2 separate regions of the Homo sapiens genome follow, and region 2 is linked to region 1. The links come from fine-mapping of genetic effects on gene expression. Tissue or cell type: prefrontal cortex. Region 1 holds a variant in brackets; the other region holds the start of a gene. All regions are shown on one strand. Distances are from middle to middle.

The links. PIP is the estimated chance that this variant, and not a neighbour inherited with it, causes the effect.
Region 2: LINC02270 starts here. The variant in region 1 is fine-mapped to the expression of LINC02270 in prefrontal cortex (CommonMind, PIP 0.95).

What each region holds. Positions count from the first base shown.
Region 1 is chr4:12,602,067-12,609,892 of GRCh38, reverse strand. All of the region lies in intron 1 of LOC105374492 (a long non-coding RNA gene), which reads left to right. Among named protein-coding and RNA genes, the nearest start is that of LINC02270, 380 kb to the right of the region's middle. RefSeq lists enhancers at 1-200, 201-716. The variant TG/G (reference allele first, on the strand shown) is at 3,852.
Region 2 is chr4:12,219,344-12,227,169 of GRCh38, reverse strand. LINC02270 (long intergenic non-protein coding RNA 2270) reads right to left here and starts at 3,719. Exons shown (of 4, transcript NR_125910.1): 1 at 3,542-3,719.

The sequences.
Region 1 (7,826 bases):
TAAGGGGCGGGGGGAGGTGGGGGAGACTCAGGCATGGCGGGCTGCAGGTCCCGAGGAGCCCTGCCCTGCAGGGAGGCAGCTAAGGCCCGGGGAGAAATCGAGCACAGCAGCTGCTGGCCCAGGTGCTAAGCCCCTCACTGCCCGGGGCTTGCAGGCCTGCCGGCTGCTCTAAATGCGGCCCGCCGAGCCCTCGCCCACCCGGAACTCTCGCTGGCCCGCAAGCGCCGCGCGCAGCCCCGGTTCCCACCCTCGTCTCTCCCTCCACACCTCCCCGGAAGCTGAGGGAGCCGGCTCCGGCCTTGGCCAGCCCAGAAAGGGGCTCCCACAGTGCAGCGGCGGGCTGAAGGGCTCCTCAAGCGCGGCCAGAGTGGGCGCCAAGGCCGAGGAGGCGCCGAGAGCGAGCAAGGGCTGCGAGCGCTGCCAGCATGCTGTCACCTCTCAACAACACCATTGACATTTTGTGCAGCTGAAGGCAGCAGGCCAGATGGACAATGTGACTAATGTGGAGTCACACTCCAGAAGGAGTCAGATGCATGCATTCTGCTTCCTAGGTCAGTGTTCTTCCCTTTCATATTGCTTTTATTTTCATTTTTGTGACTGAGTGCAAACTGCTAGCTCACTTAAGTGCTTAGTGCATACTGTCTTTTTGGTTATTTTCCTTTGTGGTAATATCTCCTCAGGGATTCATCTGAGTCTTTGAAATCAACCTACCTACATGTTAAAAAAAATGCAGTGAAAAATGCTATATTCTATGCCTATATGCTATTCTAGAGACAATTTTAGAATGAAAGGAAATTATCTCTGTTAGAGCCTTCGGGGAGCTTAGATTTCTGATATAAAAATGGGAACGCAGTTTTCCTCTATCTCCCATTTTAGGACGTCAGCTTCTATTATTTTATTGCTGGCAACCTAGAAAAGGGAAAAAGGAAAATAAAACCATGCCATTCTAGAAATAGTGACCTAATTTCAGCCCTAGAAAAAAGTAAGAGTCAGAGGAAAAAAAAAATCCTCAGGAAGAACAGGAATATCATGATTCAGAATTAAGGTATGTTAACAACATTCTGTATGGCAGAGGCCGAAATGGTAAGACAGAGAAGAGATTATTTGACCTGCGTACAAGCACCTGGCCAGATTTGGGAAGGGGACCTGACAGCACTCAGTTTATTGGACCTGTATCTTGCCTTTAGCCAAACCATGCTAATTAAAAGTTAGCAAATATGCTAATTAAAAGTTAGCAAATGAATGTTGGGAATTCGAGTTCTAAACACAGTTCTAAACTTGGGAATCTCTTAATAAGGACCACTGGCTCTGCCTTTGAGGGCATCAGATCCCAAAAGCAAGCAAGCCCCATGAAGTCTAGAAACCAGAGAAAGAAACTGTTTATCAATCTGTAGTCACAAAAACCTTGAGCAAAGACAGGTGTCTCTTCCTAGGAGAAGCAAACACAGTCACAAGAGAAAAGCAATTGCTGCATTAATAAGTAAAAAGGGAACAGAAGGATTTTTCTTTAGAACGGATGCATGGGATTTTCTTTGGTGATGTAATCTGTATTATATACGGGTTCACGTAAGAATGAACTCCTTGGAGTTTGTGTCTGGATCTCAGGCAAGTTGAAGGGTAAGGTCAGTTCCACAGGCTTAAGGCAAATTTCCTCATCTGTAAAATGGAATAGGAGGATCTTTCTTGCAGAGTTTATGAGGATTGAGTGGGTTACACTAAGGTCCTGGTACAATGCCTAGTACAGATATGACAGTTAACAAGTTACTTCTCTTCCTTCCATTAATGATGGCAAAACATTTAAAGTTTTGCCAGAATGCTGGGCAATTATTAGGGAGATAAAGGTGGATACAAAAAGAAAGATCAGGGGAAAAAAGAACAACCTGAGAAGAATAGAAAACTGGATATAACAAGTTTTATGTTTTTACACTTCTGATAAGAGTGTTCCTTTTATCAGGGCTTTGCAAGTAGGGACCGGGTATTATTTCCCAAAATGGTGAGTAAAGAAGCAACTAGATGCATTTGAGCTTTCAAAAAGGTAGAGACAACTAACCACATGTTAAGGTTTTATTTTTGAAAAGTTTTTAGAAAATTCCTAAAAAGCTTGCCATGCACTGTGGTTGTAATTGCCAAATTTCACGTGTAGTTGCTCTCAACTTCTATATCCCATTCAAATTCTTGATCATTTATTTGACTTTTCTTTCTCCATAACTTTTAATTCATCACTTGCCTGTGTGCTTGGGAAGTTCCTCATTTTGGCCTCTCTCAGGAGACCTCTCTCCATGCTAGGCAGGCGGACATTGTGATGTGTATCTTAGCCCCCCGGTTTTCCTTTTAAGGAACCCCTGAGAATGGTAATATTATTATCCCTATTTTACAGAAGAGTTGGCTTACATTTAAAAGCAGTAGTAGTGAACCCCAGAGGCACCTTGCCTGGCTTTAAATTTTGGTCCCCTATTTACTAGCTGTGTGATTTTGAGCAAGTTGCTTAACCTCTCTGTGTCTCAGATTCCTGATCTGTTAAAAGAGAATAATACTTTTGCATTATGGTTATTGTAAAGCTGATAATGCATGCTATGTGCTTAGCAGAGTACCTTGCACTAAGCGAGTTTAGGATAAATATTAGCCATTATTGTTATGAGAGAGGTTAAATATCCCGCTCCTAGAAATATCAGCAGCCCCTGTAAAAGGCATGTCAGCCTGTTTCTGGAGCCATTGTTCTCCACCACTCTAGGGTGTATGCACCTCATGCGTTGTGTTATTTTATGAATCGAATTGAAGGCCAAGTGCTATAGTCTTTGGAAAAAAATTATTACAGCTTACAAAAGATCAGAAAAATTTATTTTAGAAATTTGAAGGTATCAGAACATTGTAAATATTTGATTCATCCTATAACTGAAATTGAAGGATGGATATATATGATTTGCAAATAAAATAAAAGTACACATAAAGTGATTCAGTTTGAGTATCTCCAGTAATGGAAATGGCAAGAAAGTGGCATTTCTTGCAAGGATAATGAACAATTTACAAGAGAAGTAAATACAATCTGTAGCTCATTAAAGTCTTAGCAATAAGCACCTGTGGTAAAAAGAAACTTATTAGGGCTTGAATGCGGGCTAGACTAGGTGTGGTGACGGATGACACTAAGAGTTTTATGTGGGGGGTGGAAGGGCAATTCAAGAGGGATAAAGTAATATAATGGTAATAGGCTGCCTCTTTCTGTGGTTCTGAACAGAAGAGGAAAGAGCCATTTAGGAGAGGGAACTGGCCAGCTTCCCTTCTCTGAAGGCATATGCCTCAAGGATGCCCTACTTAGCACTGACATTGCGGAATTGTTCTCCTGTTTCTCTGAATTTTTTAGAACAAAAAGATTTAAGATATTTGAGCCCCTAGATGAGGTCCTGCTTATTCGGCAGCTCTTTCTTGACTCTTTCTATCTCACCCTTTCTAAGGAGCTCAGAGTCTGAGCTTGATTTTAAAATCTGTGTAACTGTGTGATATTATAACAATCACTTCTCTGGAAAAATGTTGAGCACAATGGAAGAACAGAGGAAAAGCAGCAACTCTGTCTGGGATTGTGAGAAACAAGATCACTTCCCCAAGTTTCTTGTCATATGCGTAGGAATTTTTTAGGTAGAGGAGAGAAAAGGAACTGCATGTGAAAGGGAATGGTGACAAGTGCATTTGGGGGAGGTGGCCGGGAAAAAACACGTTTATTATCTCCTCTTTGAAATGTGGGGGTCCAAGCCATATGTGCTTGAAAATTTTGAATTTTTCAGATTTTTGAAAGAACTTTGTTCAGTTCCTCCAAGTTTAACTGTTCTTCCCTCATTAAGACTTTTTTTTTTTTTTTT[TG/G]TATGAGCACTGGCCCGAATCAGTGCTTCCTCAGGTTATAGCTTTTATGAATCATTACATTTTCCTCGTCTCTGTGGGAATTGGCCTCTCCCCAATTTCCTGCATTGGTCTATAGTTTTCCTTAAGAACTTGAAAAGCAAAAATTAGACTTTGTTGTATAGAATAAGTGGTGAATGAGCACATGCACCAGAAATCAACATAAGAATAAGTCCTTTTGAGTGTTCAAAACTGGTGTATTATTTGTGACTCAGACTCCTTAAATTTCGTTTACATGTAGCAATTTACTTTAGAACTCAGTATTCATATGTTCAAACGATTTTTTGTCCTCTCTGTGTTCTCTCCAACCCCCACTCCCATCCTATTAACAAGCACTTCCCAAAGGTCCGATTTTATTGTACTCATCTAATTGATAAGCGTGCTCAATTTATATCAGTGACAGTTTAGCATATTTTAGAAAATTTTACATTACATGATTTCATGAATTGGAACAAGACAGGGTTCATTCAGCATTGTACAAATGAACAAGGGGTGGGTATATATGTGTGTTGCTCACATTACTAAACTATTACAGTGTTATTCAAACTTGAACATGCATCAAGCTCACCTAGAGGTTCTTATTTCCAGAGTTTATCATGCAGGAGGTCTGGGATAGGGCCTGATAATCTGTATTTCTAATAAGCTTCCAGGCTATGCTGCTGCTGCTGTCCCAGAGACCACACTTTGAGAACCACCAGGCGTTAGCAATCTAGGGGGATAATTCACTAGAGGGAGTGAAGGAGGCTCCACCAGCTGGCTGTTGACATTCACTGAAGGAACGGAGGGATGATAGGTCTGAATGCTCAGCAGATGAAAGAAATAGAAGGATGGTGAACAAATGTGGAATTAAGAAATATGCCTTAGACCCTTCTGAAGCACAAGTCGATGACTTCTTGGGGCTGGGAAGCAGTGCAAGGCAGGAGGCAGAAATGGAGCAACTGAGGTTCAGTTATGACTTCTTGATGAGGACATTATAGGGAAGCAGGAGAAGGAAGGGTACAGAGATCAAACTTCCACACACAACAGCCCTCGTTTCAAATCCAGGGTCTTCCAATTTACCCAGGTGTTTTGATGTTTTTATGAGTTAACCTCCCTGACTCTCAATTGTCTTCTCTGTGAAGTGTGGGCAGTTGTGGTAACCTCATGGAGACTAAAACTGCGTCAGACACTAGCTACAAAATAAAATACTAAAATACTTCTTTTAGTCATAATGAAAGGGTCAGCTAATGACGATCACAATTCTGGACCCATGGATCACATTTAATATGTATTTGTGTCCAAGCAGAACTTATAATGATTGGATTAACATAATAAATTTGAGGCATAGCAGATAATGAAAAACTGCAGAAGAGCCAGGTCCCTCACTCTCTATTACTGGGAATGCAGAAGAGTTATGGTTGAACTAAAGCAAAAAAAAAAAAAAACAATAATAATAAAGACAATAACAGCAATGAATATTTATTGAATTCCTTCTGAATTTCTATGAGCCATGCCACCACAATTTTAAAATGTGTATATATACACACTCGTGTGTGTATGTGTTTGTACAATCCTTCACAGAACTCTATAATAAAATAGGCATTATTAGCAGTCCATCTTACTTTGAGAAAAACTGAGATACAGGCAAGGTATAGACCATATAAGAAATACCCCAGAGGCATAAAATTTAACATTTAGCATTAAATAAGTTCAAAGGTATTGAGCTTTCCTTGATCCGTATGTATCTTGCCCTGTCTTTGTTTGTTCCATAGTATCTCTTTATTGTTCCAAGATCTTAAATATTCCATTAAAAATTTCTATAGCAATCCATTTGCTATGTTCACAATCCCTCACCATGTTTCTGACATTTTCTCTCCGTTCCTGGCATGCTGCTTTTTTCTAAATGTGTGATTAATGGTAACCTCCAAAGACCAAGGTGGTGCAACCAGTTGTGGCTGTGCTTGTTTCCTTTCCATATCCAATCATGAAGGGCAGGGCATAATACAGTATCAGCCATCCTGTGGGAGAGTGGAGGTCAGCACTACCTCCCTGGCTAGTCAGATTGACTTTTTCAGAAAGAGTTACCAACCTGGTTTCCAGCAGTGGACCAGGCTTCAAAGGGAACACTAGCCTGGCCTACTCACAGAGATTGCTCTGCTTTCAGAGAAAGTTGACAACCAAACACCCTTGCTATTAATCACCTCCTAACTCAAACTCTGACTCCTGAGCTGGCTTAGCATCTCATTATCTAGCTATGTCTTCCTGCCTTTCGTTGTTTCTCCTTACCTCCATCCCTAGCTTCAGGAGACTCTCCACCTTTTTCACCTGTGCCCTGTTGAGAATGAGCAATGCCCTAGTCTAGAATACCAGAAAATGTAAGAATTTAGTAAGTAAAACATATTATTCTAAGGGGATCAAGTCAGTATAGTTTGTTGCTTTAAGCTAAAAGGCTATAAGAGATAATTGGCACCCTATATTGAAATAGAAAAGTTGCCACTATTTCTAGAGGTTGTTATGTGGGTGAAATTGCTTAAACTTCAAAATTAAAGTCAGTTTGAAATTTATAATTTTATGGCTTAGGGCTTTTTAGTGATACTGTTGAGCAAACAATAACATTCTCACCTTGCAGGAGCGTTTTTTAAGATATGATAGATATCCTATTTTTTTGGATATGAATATAGAAGAAAGATTCCCCTCATTTAGGGAATCCTTATGTTTTGTTTTCTTTCTTTTTTTGTTTTTTGAGACAAAATCTCGCTCTTGTCCCCCAGGCCGGAGTGTGATGGTGCAATCTCGGCTCAAGCAATTCTCCTGCCTTGGCCTCCCAAGTAGCTGGGATTACAGGCACCTGCCACCATGCCCGGCTAATTTTTGTGTTTTTAGTAGAGACTGGGTTTCACCATGTTGGCCAGGCTGGTCTAGAACTCCTGATCTCAGGTGATCCACCTGCCTCAGCCTCCCAAAGTGCTGGGATTACAGGCGTCAGCCACCGTGCCCGGCCCCCTCTCCTGTTTTCGTAGCTTTTTCAATGCCTATCTTTATTACTGAGTTTATAATAATACACTGAAATAATCTACTTACAGCTACTTCTCACATGGGCCTATGAGTTAGTGGGACCCTGTCTTATTCATAACTGTATCCTCAGCATCTAACTCAGTGCTTGGGGCATAAAATGTGTCTTAGAGAATGTTTGTCAAGTAGAACTCAATTGAGGTGGGACTAAAGACATTGGTAGGAGGGGTTGTTTTCAGATTAAGGGATATTATGAATGTTTGTGGTATTACAGCTGTGATAGTTAATTTTAATTTTATGTGTCAGTTTGACTAGATCATGGAATGGCTAGATATACAATTAAATAATAATATATCCGTGCAAAAGTATTGTGGTTTTTGCCATTGAAAGCAATGGCAAAAACCACAACTACTTTTGTACTGATTATATGGTTTGGCTGTGTCCCCATCCAAATCTCATCTTGAATTGTAACTCCCACAATATCCATGTGTCATGAGAAGAACCCGGTGGGAGGTAATTGAATTACGGGGGTGGACCTTTCCTGTGCTGTTCTCATGATAGTGAATGAGTCTCATGAGATCTGATGGTTTTAAAAACGGGAGTTTCCCTGCACAAGTTCTCTCTCTTGTCCCTGCCATGTAAGAAGTGCCTTTTGCCTTCCACCATGATTGTGAGGCCTCCCTAGCCACATGGACCTGTAAGTCCACTTTTAAACCTCTTTCTTTTGTAAATTGCCCAGTCTCAGCTATGTCTTTATCAGCAGTATGAAAATGAACTAATACAACTGATCTAATATTTCTGAGTCTCTCTGTGAGGATGTTTCTATAAGACATTAGCTTTTGAATTGATAAGACTGAGTAAAGTGGATTATCTTTTCCAATGTTAGTGGGCATCATCTAATCCATTGAGGGCCTGAATAGAACAATAAGATGAAGGAAGAGAGGATT
Region 2 (7,826 bases), 380 kb after region 1:
GCTGAAAATTAGTGGAGTGGAGAAAAGTAGTGGAGTAGTGGAAGCAATAGCTTTGTGACCTCAGAGTCTTGGTGCTCAACACTGCATAGGCTCAAATTTTCTGATCTTTAGATTTATCCTCCAATCAGATCATTACTTATTTGCCTTAAACCAGTCATGATACTCCTTGTAGGTCTCTTTTAGGATAATTCATTTTTTTTTTCACAAAAAAACTCCTGAGTTTGTTAACCATACGAACATATATGATGTGCACACCCACCCGCAGTCCTCCAGATACCAGAAATACGTCTGAATCACAGGAACAAAAATGAGTCAAGCTTGTGTTAGGGACAAAACTAAATTTTTTATGAAAGCATTTGAAACTTTGCCGTAAAGTTCATTATGTTCTCAACTTGCTGTTGCCAAAATCGTTGAGAGCAGGGATTAGATCTTAGATATACTTAACTCTTTAGCAGCATGCACAGTTTCTGGCACATACTAGGAACTTAATTTAAAAATAATGTGGTTGGCAACTAAACAAATGAGTGTTGGGCTACAGAACTTGCTTGAGGATTTGGTCAGATGGAACACGGTCCAGAGAGTTGTGTTTGGAGTCACAATTTGGATTAGAGGTTTGGACAGCAAGTGGAAGTGTTTCCACATAATATTCACAGCTGAAACATATGTTACAAATCCATAAAAATAAACGTGGCTAGAAACCACACTAAGGAAAAAAACTTATTTGCAACAATAGGAAAAGTGGCTGAGTGAATTCATATTATTGATCTATTAGGAGGAATAAAGTACATGTCTTCCATAAGCATTCAATAAGAAAAAGCAAGAGGCAGTTTTATAGGTATGAAATGATTACATTTTTATTAAAATACACAAATATGCGTGTGTGTGTGTGTGTGTGTGTGTATATATATATACTTATTTAAGAAAAGGAAAGATACATATTAATGTGTCAAGAAAGGTACAGAGATTTACCTTATACAAATGGAATGGAATGGGTTCAGGGGAATCTTTAGCTACTTTCATAAATATAAATATTTATTTCTAGCCATGGTAAGATTATGGATGATTTTGGTAGTTTATAACTATTTTTACCAATATACATACACATAAACATGTTGAGTTAGACTGATACATCTTGGTACATAAATATATTAATGTTATATCAAGTGAATAAATTTGGAATTACAAAGGAGCAGCTTGCTGATTGAGACTGTCTGTGTGTATGAGAGATACACGTGTATATATATGTGGAAGGTACACTAAACTGACATTTTTGGGGTGAATTTACGTAGGACTTTTATTTTACAGTTTGGCTATTGTAGAAAATTGCTTGCAGTGAACTAGTTTATTTTATCATGAAATAAAGAAAAACAAACCAAAAAGGCAATATTAGGGTTGGCATAGCAGAAGCAATAATTCTGCTGTAATGATGGCTAGGAAGTAAATGCTGTCCTTTTATTTATGGAAGCAAAGGTCTTCTCTAGGTCCAAAAGGATGAGGTAAAATTCAAACTTCTAAGCCTGGCATTCAAGAGCCCCTGCAATCTGGCCTCAATATAGCGTTATGACCTTGAGTCCCATATGTCTCATAAATTCCATTCTATGAAATTGTTTTGTTCATATCCTCAGAATGCACTTTGCAGAGTTCTACTTCCACAAATATCCTCATACCAAATTTTATTACCTGGAATGACATTCCTTCTCCTCTGTACCTTTCAGAGTCCTATATTCTATCCTTATTTGAATTCTTTCTTTTCCTTAAAAGCCATGTTTTCCCTGAAATCCAGTGTGGAGTTCCAATCCAGCTTGTGCAAGCTAAAGAGAATTTATTTCACCCACAACATTCATTAACACCCTAGAAACAGGTGATGAGATGCCTTAAGCCTAGCCCCTAATAATAAAAATGTCCCAAAGTTAATATATATTTGTTATGTCCCACTTCAATATTTCCCATATACATATGCATACAGAAAAACATAACGGGAACATCTACACACTGGAACAAATACTTAAGAACACTGCAAAGAGAGAGAAAGAAGTGGAGGTTTATCATGTTTTACTTCAGGGATTCCACAGTTCTATTACACTTTTTTGAATTATTGTAGATTATTAACATATTGTGATTGAAAGCATCTCCCAATTAGCCCCATGATATTCCCCAGAGAAAGCCAACTTTCCAAACTGACCAGTTGCCAAGTAAACAACGTATTAATGAGAGGTCAAGAGTCGAAGCGTGGAAGTCAGATGAAATCCTGGGTTTGGAATTCACTTCCTCTGCTTACTAGCTGTGTGGCCTTAAGTGAATTAAGTAACTTCTCTGAACCTCAGTTTCTTCATTTATAATTAGCATTGGTAATACTACAGACTGCACAGAACCACAAAAACCCTAGAAGAAAACCTAGGCAATACCATTCAGGACATAGGCATGGGCAAGGACTTCATCTCTAGAACACCAAAAGCAATGGCAACAAAAGCCAAAATTGACAAATGGGATCTAATTAAACTAAAGAGCTTCTGCACAGCAAAAGAAACTACCATCAGAGTGAACAGGCAACCTATAGAATGGGAGAAAATTTTTGCAATCTACTCATCTGACAAAGGGCTAACAGAATCTACAAAGAACTCAAACAAATTTAGAAGAAAAAAACAAGCAACCCCATCAACAAGTGGGCAAAGGATATGAACAGACACTTCTCAAAAGAAGACATTTATGCATCCAAAAGACACATGAAAAAGTGCTCATCATCACTGGCCATCAGAGAAATGCAAATCAAAACCACAATGAGATACCATCTCACACCAGTTAGAATGGCGACCGTTAAAAAGTCAGGGAACAACAGGTGCTGGACAGGATGTGGAGAAATAGGAACACTTTTACACTGTTGGTGGGACTGTAAACTAGTTCAACCATTGTGGAAGTCAGTGTGGTGATTCCTCAGGGATCTAGAACTAGAAATACCATTTGACCCAGACATCCCATTACTGGGTATATATCCAAAGGATTATAAATCATGCTGCTATAAAGACACATGCACACGTATGTTTATTGCGGCACTATTCACAATAGCAAAGACTTGGAACCAACCCAAATGTCCAACAGTGATAGACTGGATGAAGAAAATGTGGCACATATACACCATGGAATACTATGCAGCCATAAAAAATGATGAGTTCATGTTCTTTGTAGGGTCCTGGATGAAGCTGGAAACCATCATTCTAAGCAAATTATCGCAAGGTCAAAAAACCAAACACCGCATGTTCTCACTCATAGGTGGGAATTGAACAATGAGAACACATGGACACAGGGTGGGGAACATCACACACCGGGGCCTGTTGTGGGGTGGGGGGAGGGGGGAGGGATAGCATTAGGAGATATACCTAATGCTAAATGACGAGTTAATGGGTGCAGCACACCAACATGGCACATGTATACATATGTAACAAACCTGCACATCGTGCACATGTACCCTAAAACTTAAAGTATAATAAAAAAAAGTATCATATAATACGTGCAAAGTTGATGTTGTGACAAATCCGTTCCCTACCATTTACGGGCTCGACTGTCCAAACTTCAGCTACCAGCCCCTGCTGTTCCTTGGCTGATATATTTAACTGTCTGTTCTGCCTGCAAACAGGGCAGGTTGCAGGTTTTCTGTTTCATCAGCAGGACTCAACTACGACTGCTGGGCACTGGCAGTTAAATGCCCCAGTGTCCTCTTCGTTAGGCAGGATGCCTGTAAGGGTCATATCTTATACTTTGTTTCAGGTTCCCTCAGGGAAAGCAGGCCCACTGTAGTAATTGTCTGACAATCTACCTTCCGTAGCCTTTTTACCTATTGTCTTATTTTCCTATTCCAATACTTACATTTCTTGGAATCATCTCTTTATTAAACGACTTGTACTCAAATCCTTGTTTGAGCGCCTGCTTCTAGGGGAACCCAAATAAGACAATCAAGGGCATGGCATAGAATAAGCATTTGGCAAATGTTACATTCTATTCTATGATTACTACTTCTAAACTATTTACATTAACAATTCATAGTATGCTTTTCACGTGATTCACCTTCCATACATCGAAAGAAGACGAGCCTGGAAGTATAGTAAATCCTGTATAGAAAATGGAGAAAAGTAAAGGCTTACAATTCTAATTATCTAATGATGACAGTGCTGTCAATGAAGCTGCCAAAACTACTGTCAGGGAAAATGGAATGTCCCTTTTGTTACATGAAGAAAAGAAAGGCCCAGGGTACATAGTACATACCAAACAAGTTAGTTCTCATAAATATTTCCAGTAGTTCCCAGCTTCTTGCCATTTGTGTATTCTACATTTGAAGCCAAAAATACTAATTCATCCATTGAATATCTGCTCTGGAATGTCATCTCTCATACTGGTTTCTCCTACAACACCATGTATTTGTTATACACCATGTAATGACTAGCATGACTAGACTGTTCTTCATTCATAACTATATTCAATCGAGCAAAAGGTAATTGATAATTCTTATAGTGAATTACAATGATATGTAAATATTATGATTTACTAACTTCTTTTACATCCATTCTCCCATTACAGCCTTTCAACTGTGCTATGAAGCAGTATAGGTGTGTATTAGTAGACTCATAAAACAGATGAAGAACCCATGATTTAGAGAAAATAAATTATTTACTCAAATGCCTAGTCAGAATGTTGAGTCCTTGAACTGGATGTAACATTTTTTAAATTATATTACTCCTTTTAGAAAACTGACTTAAATCGTCTAAGAACCTATCTAATACTAGTTAAACAATGAGTACAAAGTTGTCTAAAAGTTTTAAACACACATAGATTCAACAAACTTTAACCTTTCTGACCCTGACCTCCAGATCCAGACTGAGTTCAATGCCGATATTCTTACTTAACACTCCTGTCACACCATCTTTTTCTGGCCTGTACCTTGCAGTGTTTCCACTTGTTCATGCCAGGTGGAGTAAGACAGAGACCATAGTTTGTTTGCACATGGTGGTATACCAGTTGTCTGGGGCAGTGCCTGGTACTGAAGTAGAGGATTTCTAAATATTTGTAAAATGTATTACAGATTAATCATTCTGCACATGTGCCACTTTTCTTGTATGGAAGTGCTGATTTATGAATATGTTTTCAAAAGCAATTATAGTTTCCCAACAAGTATCTACTGTTATGCCTACTTCCATTATAACCGAAATAAGGTTAAGAAAATGTTTTCTGTTAAGGAAGAAAGTATGCCCAGTGCTTATGAGATCAATGGGACTGTGTATTGTTGTAGAAAGTGACTCTGTGGTCAAAATACTAATTTGAATTCCCAGTCTGCGTTTCTACTTTTCTACTGTAAAATGTTGATAATGTAACAAAATTTAGGAGTTTCAGTTTCATTTTCTGTAAAATGAAAAATGATATTAATTTTTGTTGGGATTAGAATAAAATGTATATTAAATGACTTCGCATTAAAAGCATTCAGTAAATGGGGCAATTATTCTTTGATCTTCATGTTTGATCTTTCTTCATAGTATTTATAAACTAGCAAGTCTGTTGGTTTATATGACTATTGTCTGTCTCATCCCCAGCCAGAATGGAAGCTCTGTGGCAATAGAGACTGTTGTATACACTGCTAATTTCCTAGTTAGAACAGTGCCTGAGACAGAGTAGGTGGTTAATTACTATATATTGACTGGAAGGATGTCACGATTTTATAAGTTGGTGACTCATTAGGCATGCTCACTCTACGCCAAAAGACATGGATAAATTTGAAAATATCATTATGCTTTATCCAGCCAGGGTTGGACTTTATACTGTGAAAATTCACAGGATTTTAGGTCTCCTGGAGTTGAGTTAAGATCACAATGACTCGTCTTTTGATGAATCTCAAAGTGCACAGGATAGTCGTTACTCAGGGAACTTTCTACTTTGGACACTTCTGCATTGCCCATTTTCTTTTTAGGGCACAGTTACTCATTCTACAAGACACACTTTAAAATGAAGAAGCTGGGGCTGGGTGTGGTTGTGTAATTTCCCCAAAGGTACCCAGCTAATTAACAACAAAGCTTGATTCAAAACCAGTCTCTTGATTAAGATTTGTGCTCCTCCTATTCTGCCAACCAGGTGTGAATTAGTAACAGAGTATTTTTAAAAAATAGTATGTGTGTCAGTCACTAGTATTTCAAGTACTCTGGGAATCTGCTTAAATATAATTCTTAGGGTAACTTCCTTTTTCCTTCTTCCCCAGTTTTTTCTCTTTTGTTTATGTATTTTGTTTATTTTTATCTCTTCATATCTCTTGCTTTTTGAATGGTACCTTAAATGACAAGTTTTCATTTTTATGAAAAAATATTTTCTTCAATTGAATAGAATAATCTTGATAAATACTCACTCAACAACACTAATAATTTATTATAGCACTTCTGCAATGACAATTCAAAATTATACATATCTCATGTGCAAACACAAGTAACTTATGATCATATTTACATAGTTCATACATAAGCAGGGAACAACAAAAAGAAACTGTAATTTATCACTATGCCTGTGGCCAATATGTTGAGACACAGCTTTGTGTTTTGAAAATCACAATGTGTATTTTTAGAGCATATCTAAAAAGTGTGTTCCCCTTCTAATAAACTTTATCCATTCTTAAGGCAACATTCACTTACAAATATTCTACATTTTCTCCTCTAAAGTTGCAGAGGTTTTTTTTTTTTTTTTTCAACATGAAAATCTCATTTCCATAAGAAAAAGGCAGCTGTGTTCCTAATATAGAACTGAAACATGACTGCTTTAAAAGTGGGCCCTGACACATTGATTCAAACTTTTCCCATCTTCACTTGTTAGCCATTCAGTGAAAAGGCAGTGATGGATTATGGAAAATGTAAGAAGTACTAAAAATATATTTTTCACCTAAGCACACTGTTTTCTTAAAAATAAAAAAAGCAAAATAGTGAAACAGTTGTCTTTACTCAGTACTATTTTTTCCCTATCTTTTTTTTCATTTATTTTTCTATAACTGAATCTTCATTCCAGTTGAGATTTTCATCATGTTTCACAGTCTCTAATGGAACCAGCTTGACCAAGCTCACTTTGAAAATTGAATTTCAGAGGGTAAATTCATTATAAATTGAAATAGGACATTCTAATTAAAATGAATACTTTTCAAAGGAATCATCGATATTTCCCAGGTGATCCTTTCTTGCTGCCCTTATTTCTCTTCCATAGTACATATTTTATAGATGCTTTAAAGCTGTAGCTCAAATTAATACATCTGTGCACCAATACTTGGTGGAGCTATTCATTCTTAACTGTAAATAATTTTGGAGTATTAGAAATGACACAGGCAACTTTGAATAAAACTCATTCATTTTACAAAAGAGGAAACTGAGGCCTATAGAGGGAAACATGAATTTTTGTTTGAGAATATCTATATTTGAAATTTTGTAGTTCTGATAATATTAAGGAGGATGACCATAATAATGTTATGGCTGTTTGACTGCAATTCAGGATAAAGCAATCAAGAAAAACATCCAAGTGAATTCTATTGACTAGCACACTCATCCATCTGAAATTGACTTCATAGGCAATGCATATCAATTAAAGAATGCAGGGAATAAATCATTTTCTTTTCTTTGTTGGGAGTTATTTAAGTATTATTATTAGAAGCCAAGTTATTGCTAAGTAGCTTCACAGAATTAATTCTTGAATATATATATACATATAAGTTATTTGATGCTCAGTCTTAAATATCATATAATATATATACATATGTATTAATGTGAATATATAACTATATTGTATATATTAATGAATATATAACTATATTCATATGC